Linked DNA regions of Homo sapiens: region 2 is linked to region 1. Evidence: fine-mapped expression QTL. A gene starts in region 1. The other region holds a variant in brackets. All regions are shown on one strand. Distances are between the middles of the regions. Region 1 holds the start of HPF1 (histone PARylation factor 1). Region 2 overlaps SH3RF1 (SH3 domain containing ring finger 1).

Region 1 (4,395 bases):
CTTCTCCAACATCAAATATAGAACAGTAGGAACATATGAAGTCCTGAGCTATCCTATCTTCTGTTTTCATAACTGTCTTTGTTCAGACGTTCAAAGACTGGCTCCAACTTAAGATGTTAGAAAAGGCTTAATCTGCCTTGCTGAAAGGCAGTTTTGCATAATAGTTAGGTTGCCTGGGTTGACTCCTGACTCTACTGATTTCCAACCTTAGGCAAGTTACTTAACCTCTCTGTGCTTTGTTTTCTCATCTGCAAAAAGGGCATACAGTGCCTATATCGGGGTTGTTACAAGGAATGTTATTATATGTAAAAATACACAGAACGGTCCTAGCACATAATATACAAATGCTGGCCATTACGGTTATAGTCTCTACAGACTCATCTTCATTTCTGTTATTGTATTTCTAGTTAAGCACATCACTCCACCAAAGCAGTTCTTCACTGCACCTTCAAAAAGAGAATTTTTTCAGCTGTGCCTTTACTCACACACTAGTTCAGCATCTCCATAGCCCTAACAACTAGGATTTAGAACAGCTGTCCCCTTCAGAGGCTACACTTCTTCTTTACCCTGGTCTTCCTAGAATGCATGACCCAATATGAAGGATGCCTATACCGATGGCCCTTTAACAGTTAGTTAAGCCCTCTAAGAATGTCTCACCCTGTCCGATTTATGACACTACCAGAGTAACTTTTCTAAAACTTTAGTTATCACAATGGCACTTCTTTCCTGATTCCCCTTATTGCTACTGTAGTGGTTACAGAACTTCCGAAATCGTAGTAAAGTATGAGAATGCACACACTCTCTCCTCCTCCCCTCTCAGTAGTGCTTTTATGATCAGGTCCCTCTTATTTTCCCATTTCCCTGGCTCCAGCCAAGCCGAACGCTCCGCTACGCCCAAACATCTCCTACAGTTTTATGTCTCAGAATCTTACTTCTCTGCCTTCAAAACCAATTTTCAAAGAGTTGTCTTAAAAGTCTTCTTTAACACCCCCTGGGACTTGTTAAATCCTCCTTCAGTGTTTCCATAGCACTTTCTACACACCAGCGTTATAATCCCAAACAAAAAAGTCACAGTAGAATGCATATTTGCTTGTGCCCCTCCTCCCCAGGCCGAGGGCTCAACAAGCAGCAGGAGCAAGCAGGTTGACCCCCAAATCCGCAGCGCCCCACAGAATGTCAGGTATGTAATCGGTTCCCAATCAATCTGGCTGGGCGAATGAACCATTGGTTGGCTTAATCCGTTTCCCCAGGAAATGCTCCAAGAGGAGCTGGGCAGAAGATGCAGAGGAGCTACTTTCCTGGTCCAACCCCCTGCAGAGCGCGAAACAGCGGCCCTGGGCAGGATCCCCGCAGCAAACCGCAGCCCCTGGACACACAGCAAGCTTAATAGTCACTGGATGAATGAAAAGCGCTGCCTCCTGGTGCCCTGGCTGTCACCCAAAGCGCCCCGCGTAGCCCGCACAGCCTTTCCGGCAGTACCTGCGGCCCCTCTCCGCCGGGCCTGCGCTTCCCGCCACCGCCGACCATTCTGCAGCTGCAGCGCCAGCAGAATTCCCCGATCCGCGGCCGCTTCCGAGCGCCGCCAACCGCTTCCGGGTTCAAAAGCCTCCAAGCCGAATTTCAGCGCCGCCCGGGCTCGCCAATTTAGGGGAAAGGCTCCGCCCATTCCCCGCCCCCTGAGACCTGGCACCGGACGCGTTGAGGCCCCGCCCACTCCCGTGCTGGGCGCGTGCAAGGAGCGTCTTCTGTCAGCGTAGTCTGCATCTAGGCTTTCTGGAGCATCTTCCAGGGTCGCTCCAGAGACCCCCCAGACTACTGAATCTGAATCCTTAGAGTGGTCCAACCTTCCTCTTCAGGTGTCTACTAGAGGCAAGGTTGGATGTATGCGGCTGTTCTCAATACAGCCCCTTCCTTGTTTTTTCTTCATTTATATTTACTTAAAATATTAATCCTTTTCTCCTTCTCCTCCATCCCTCTCCCTACCCTACTGTACGGTTATTGGCTTACACTAATTCATTCCCGATTGTCTCCAAGAAGGAAATAAATGTCTGTCGGTCTCTGTCTCTGTACCGTCGTCTTCTTGGTACAATTTGGACTGTTTTTCCTCTACACCGCTGATATGCAAAGTGTAGTCCCTGAACCAGCGGCCTCAGCATCCTGAGGGAATTTGTTAAAACGCCAAATCTCAGGCCTTACCCAGACTTACTGAATCAATATCTGCATCGCAACAAGATCCCCTGGTAATTCCTATGCACATAAAATTTGGAAGGCACAACTCTCAACTGATGTCCTTGGACCTCCTTCACATCCATCCTGGGAAGGTCTTATTCCTCATTCCTGAGATGAGTTCTCTATTTCCTCAATCTGGGTGTTCCTTTTTCTTGATTATATACCCTCATGTTGTGGAACATATCCGCCAATAGTTCCTTGAGAGAGGTTGCTGCCAGGTCTTTTTTCCCACAGAGTGTGCATGTCTGGAAATGTTTTTATTCTGGCTGAGCACAGTTCTAGGTTGAAAATAACTTTCACTCGGAATATTGGAGGGCTTGCTCCGCAATATTTTAGCTTCCAGAATTGTTAAGAAACTATGTCGTTATATTTCCTTCTCCTTCACAGGTCACTAAATTTCTTGATATGTAACCTGCTTTCCTTTCTGTTTTGTTTTGTCTCAAGAAGCTTTAGGATCTTTTCTCTGTTTCCAGTGTTTTTTGTTTTGTTTTGTTTTGTTTTGTTTTTTTTGAGACGGAGTCTCGCTCTGTTGCCCAGGCTGGAGTGCAGTGGTGCCACCTCAGCTCACTGCAAGCTCCACCTCCCGGGTTCACACCGTTCTCCTACCTCAGCCTCCGGAGTAGCTGGGACTACAGGCGCCCGCCACCACGCCCAGCTAATTTTTTTTTTTTTTGTATTTTTAGTAGAGACGGGGTTTCACCGTGTTAGCCAGGATGGTCTCGATCTCCTGACCTCGTGATCCGCCCTCCTCGGCCTCCCAAAGTGCTGGGATGACGGGTGTGAGCCACCGCGTCCGGCCTATTCCCAGTGTTCTAAAACACTATTGAGTGTCTTGGTTATGGGTCTTTTCTCATTCCTATCGACCAGTTTTTCAATCCTGAAACACATGTTCTTCAGTTATGGGAATTCTTCTGGTATTATTTATTTGATCATTTCTTCCCCCCCACCCCCCATCGTATCTCTTCTTTTTTGAAATTTGTTATTTAGATCGTGGACCTTCTTGGCTGATGTTTTTTCTTACCTGTCTGTCCTATTTTCTATGTCTTCATATTTTTATTCTACTTTCTCTGTGACTTTCTCAACTTAATTGGACAATTACTTAATTTCTTTATTATACTTAATAAAGATTAATTACTTAATTTCTGTATTATACCTTTATTTCTCAGTGCTCTTTTTATTCTCTGTTCTTTTATAGCATTACATTATTTTTCATGAATATAGCTCCTTTTATCTCTGAAGATGTCAATTATAGCGTTTTTAAAAATGCTTTCTACGTAACTCTGCATTGACTTTGATTCTTTTGAGTCTTTTTTGGTTGTTTGTTTGTTTACATTTGGTTCCTGTTGTTTCTGCTAGAGGCATTCTTCATCTTGTGTGGTGATCCTTGCTGTCAATTTATATGTAAAAATGAGGCTCTAAAAAGGTGCTTTGGGGACATAGGCAAGGCTTGTTTACTGCTGGACAAGGTGTAAGATGATGGGGAAAGAACCAGCTGTTTATTTTCTTCTAGAGAGTAATCTTCTAATTACTCACTTTGAGAATATACAGACTTCTTGGAGCCCAATGCAGGAAGGAGGCTGGGAGTCTTAATAATTTCATTATATGCACTGTATTAGTCGGGGTTCTCCAGAGAAACAGAACAAATAGGTATCTATTTATCTATATCTATACCTACATCTGTATCTAGCTATCTATTAGCTCACGTGATTATAGGGGTTGAGAAGCTGCATAATCTGCTGTCTGCAAGCTGAAGATCCAGAAAGCCCATATTGTAGTTTGAAGCCCTGATAACTGGGGAGCCAATGGTGTAGATTCCAGTTCGAGTTTGAAGTCTTGCAAACCAGGATCACCAAGGGCAGGAAAAGATCAAAGATTCAGTTCAAGAATCTAGCAGAGAGAGAGTGAATCCTCCCTTCCTCTACCTTTTTGTTTTATTCAGACCCGAATGGATAAGATGATGCCCACCCACATTGGTGAGGATAATCTCTTTTACTTAGTGCCCCCGCAGACACTCAGTAATACCGATTAACCAGGTATCTGGGCATCCTGTGGTCCAGTCAAGTTGACACATAAAATTAACTCTCCACCGCGTGTGGCGGCTCATGCCTGTTTCCCAGCACTTTGGGAGGCCAGGGAGGGTGGATCACTTGAGGTCAGGAGTTCGAG
Region 2 (4,395 bases), 580 kb before region 1:
ACACACCCAAGATCTCAGAACAGTCTCATTAAGTGCTAAGCAGATTAATGAGGGGGAAACAGACCGTATTCAGGCACATCTCATTACAATTCAAAACTCCAAAGATAAGTGAAAAATTCTAAAAGATTTGGGTCAGAGGTGGAATGTAAGTAGAATATGACTTATTGATAGTAATATAGGAGAAAAGTAGACAGCAGAAAAAAGGCTTTACATTTCTAAGGGAGCATGATTTAGAAGAACTTGGCCAGCTAAACTGTTAAATATGTGTCTGAACAAAATACTGATTATTTTTGAACACCCCAAATCTCAGAAACTTTATTACCTGTGCCTTTCAAGTGAAAACTATAACAATTATGCAAGGAAGTATCTCCCAGCCTACAATATTCCCCTCACAAAAAACCACAGAAGACTCCTAGAGAAATGAAATGTGATACAAGAAATGTGGATGGCTCAATATGATCTAGAAGAGATGAAGAAAATGAAATTTTAAAAAGATCCACTGGATCTAGAGGTGGGGCAGGGTCTGGTGAAAGGTTATATCTGCTTCTTCTCCATCCGCACTGCAGTGAATCATGTTTATATAATCATAATACTGCAAATGCTATTTTTATGGGACTTGGGGAATTAATTACAGCTACAGAATAGAATGTTATAAACTCTGACAATATCAAAATAACAATACACTGAACTAAAACCAAGAGTTAGGCTTAAAGGAAGGTGGGAGGTAGAAGTACTCTAAATTTTCCACTCTGAAATTGATACTGTATGAGCCTAAGAAAGCAAGAGCTGAAAACATATTATTGAAGGCTTGGGTCACCCCACCAGGTAAAAAGCCACGACCAGCTCAGTTGCTTGCTGAAGGCAAAGGGAATACAGAATGAGTAGTAGAAGAAGGCAGTTATCAATACTGGCTAAAACCATGTGTCCAGTTACAGAAAGGAGGACTGTACTATCATGAGTAATTCCTCCTTATTTTAAGAATATGCCCGTACATGGATATACCTGTACTCAGAAAATATCTTCGTTTTACTTCCTTTCTTCTTCCTTTATCATGTAACATGAGATTTATTGACTTCATATCAGCATTTAAATGTCATTAACTTTATATAATAGCATTTAGGTTAAGGATTAGGGCATTTTCAGTTGTACAAAATATAGTTGTATTATGTTAGGTGTAATTATGACCTTATTGTTTTTATTTGGAGATTAAGTATGATTTAAGGAGATGTGTATGGGGCTAAGTTGACAAGGGGTCAACTATTATGGTTCACATTAGGTGTCAACTTGATCAGATTGAGGGATGCCTAGATGGTTGCTAAGGTATTGTTGGCTGGCAGGGGTGAGGGTGTTGCCAGAGGAGACTGACATTTGACTGACATTTGGGCTGGGAGAGAAAGACCCACCAATTGGCTGCCAGCGCGGCTAGAACAAAGCAAGCGAAGAAGGTGGGATGTAATGGTAACCAGTAGAACTAAAGAATAGAAAACAGTAATAGCACTTACCCCTGGAAAGCAGGACTAGGGTAGGAGAGAAGAGAGAGGGACACTCTTGCTCTCTATTTTAGAATCTTCTTTGAGGTTATGTATTTTCTATCATGAACAGATATTACTCTAAAACTAAAATGTGTAAGAAAAAGTGTGTGAAATTCTAATACACTTGCTATAAATAGAGTATCTTGTTTACTAAATAATTAAGATATACAAAGAGGAGTAATAATAAAAAAGATAATCCACTGTATCCACAAACTGACTTGAGAAATAAAGCATTATAAATGCAATTGAAGCCTTCTGTATTTTTCTTCGCCAACCACATAGTAGATCAACTTTTAAAAGAAAAGAAGCAAATCTAGATGGACCCTTACTATTGTCCCTGCTCATCCACCTAATCCCACTCCTACTTGCTCCTGACCATTCCTGATTAAGATATTCAGTTGCACCAAATAATTGACTCAGGCACCTTAACAAAATATTAATATGACATTAGTAAAACTCCCACCGTGCCCCCTTGTTATTCAGACTGTATGTCTTATAATAAATACAAGCTTGCTGTGCTAAGTTTTTTCTGGGATTAAAAAAAAAAAAGTAGCAAAAGAACACAGTAAGTCCAGTGATTGAGGAAATGAAAAACAAGATATAAATTGTCACTACAATCATGCTCCCTGCTTCTGCAAGACCTTGTGATTCAATTAGTATGATTTCACCTTAAGTGTTTGTGTCTGAGGAGCTGGTGATCCTGAGGCGCTGTAGATCCTGGGGTCTGGAGGGTTACACATGTTAGCTCTGGAGAAAACAATAAAAGCCTAAATACCTTCCCTTAATTTGAGAGGGGTTAGCTTACTGAGCTTGTGAAATATGTGGAAACCACTATCTAACCATTTACAAGCTACCTTTTTTTTTAATAAGCTACTTTTAAAGAGGAGGGGTAGCAAGTTGGCCATGTCTTAGAACCTTGGTTATGAAAACTTCATTAATCAGAGACAAGATTTTTAAATGTTTAAAAGAATATGGCTATTACCCTCTTTCTCACCAAGTCTTTTAGAAAAATAAGATCACCCTACCCACACACCACCACTACCAAATACCTGACTTTAAGGATACGGCTAATGCTAGTTCTTCAATTGTAATTTCCTGAG[T/TTATATATA]TATATATATATATATATGGTGACTGAATTCATACCTGAAGCAGCCCCATCCTGATAACACAATAAAAACCAATGCTTTTCTTGAGACAGGGTCTCACTCTGTCACCCAGGCTAGAGTGCAGTGGCGCAATCATGGCTCACTGCAGCCCCGACCTCCGGGCTGAAGTGATCCTCTCTCTTCAGCCCCTCGAAAGCTGTGACTACAGGCACGTACCAGCATACCTGGCTAATTTTTGTATGTTTTGTAGGGGTAGGGTCTCTCTATGTTGCCTAGGCTGCTCTCAAATTCTTAAGACTCAAGCAATCCTCCCGCCTCAGCCTCCCAAAGTGCAGGGATTATTGGCGTGAGCCATCATGCCAGGCCAAAACTGGTGCTTTTCAAGCTTTAATGAGGGCACGAATCACCTGGACTTCCTGTTAAATGCATACATAGTCTGATTCAGTACCTCTGGGTGGGGCAAGAGAGACTGCATTTCTAACAGTCTCAGGTGATACTGATGCTGCCCAGGGAGCCACACTTTGAGTAAAAGGGGAATCCAGTATCAATCTCCTTCCCAATCTCCTTTGGGTGTTTTTCTTTCTCAATTGCTCCATCTTCTGACATTTGCTCTTTTCTAACTAAATTTACTCCCAAGATGATCTCATCTATTTCCTTCTTTTAAAACCATTTACACAAGCCATTCTCAACCCTGACTGCATATTAGGATCAACTAGGGAGTCATTTTTTCTTCTTCTTTTAAAGTTTTCTAAAGCCCCACCCCAAACCAATTAAATAAAAATCTCTGGGGCTGGGTCAGAAGCATACGGATTTTGAAAAGCTCCTTAGTGACTCTCATATGAAGCGCTAAGAACTGTGGATCTACACAACGATGTCTCCCAGATCTAACCTCAGCTATAACCTCTCCCCTGCGCACCAAGGGCCTACTTCACATCTCCTGTTGAATATCTAATAGGCATCCACAAATCAACGTGTCCAAAACAGACCTCTTGGTTTCCACCTACCCCCATGAAAATCTGATCCTCTACCAGTTTTCCCCAATGTTGGTAAATAGCCCACTGTTCACCTCGTTGCTTGGGCCAAAAGACTGGGCTTCACCATGATGCCTCCGTTCCCATTCTTTCACATTGCACATCCACTTAATGCATCAGCAAGTCTGCCAGCTTTGACTTCAGAACAACCCCCAGTCAGTCCACTTCTGACAATTTCTACTGCTACCAGCCCAAGCCAGATCAACACCATCTGTATTGCCACTATTAACACCCTAGCACCTATTATCCACAGTCTTGCCTGTTAACCTCAGAACGGCTTTCCCTCCCACTTGAAATACAAACTCCTTCCTGTGGCTCCCAAGGCTTTCTATCATCTGGTCCCGGCTAACCTCTCTGGCTCCCTCTCCAATTCTTCTCCCATCCCTACATCCTACTCCTGCTACACTGGCCTTGTTGTTGCTTCTTGACCACTCCAGGCTCTTCCCTGCCTCAGGATCCTTCTCTTACTTTTCCTTCTGCTTAGAATATTCTTTACAGGCTTATTCCTAATCATCATTCAGGTCTCTGCTCTAATGTCATCTCAGAAGGCTTCCCTGATTATCCCACAATAGCCTCAACCCAACCAGCACCCAACACAACTTCCTCACCCTGAACTTTCTACCCTGCTCGTTTTCTTCATGACATTTATCATGACTAGGCACCGACCCACCCAAAACCACTAGACCATAAGCTCTAAAAAAACTGTCTTGTTCAACAGAGAATCACAGGCCTAT

What was found. PIP is the estimated chance that this variant, and not a neighbour inherited with it, causes the effect. A credible set is the group of variants that fine-mapping cannot tell apart.
Region 2: its variant is the best candidate, but not a certain one, in a credible set for the expression of HPF1 in whole blood (INTERVAL, PIP 0.80).

What each region holds. Positions count from the first base shown.
Region 1 is chr4:169,756,351-169,760,745 of GRCh38, forward strand. It overlaps HPF1 (histone PARylation factor 1), which reads right to left and starts at 1,594. Exons shown (of 8, transcript NM_017867.3): 1 at 1,480-1,594. The coding sequence starts at 1,527. It overlaps LOC107986240 (a long non-coding RNA gene), which reads left to right and starts at 1,713. Exons shown (of 3, transcript XR_001741529.2): 1 at 1,713-1,874. RefSeq lists an enhancer at 1,442-1,511.
Region 2 is chr4:169,171,367-169,175,761 of GRCh38, forward strand. The region is part of intron 2 of SH3RF1 (SH3 domain containing ring finger 1); the gene reads right to left. Among named protein-coding and RNA genes, the nearest start is that of SH3RF1, 97 kb to the right of the region's middle. The variant T/TTATATATA (reference allele first, on the strand shown) is at 2,633.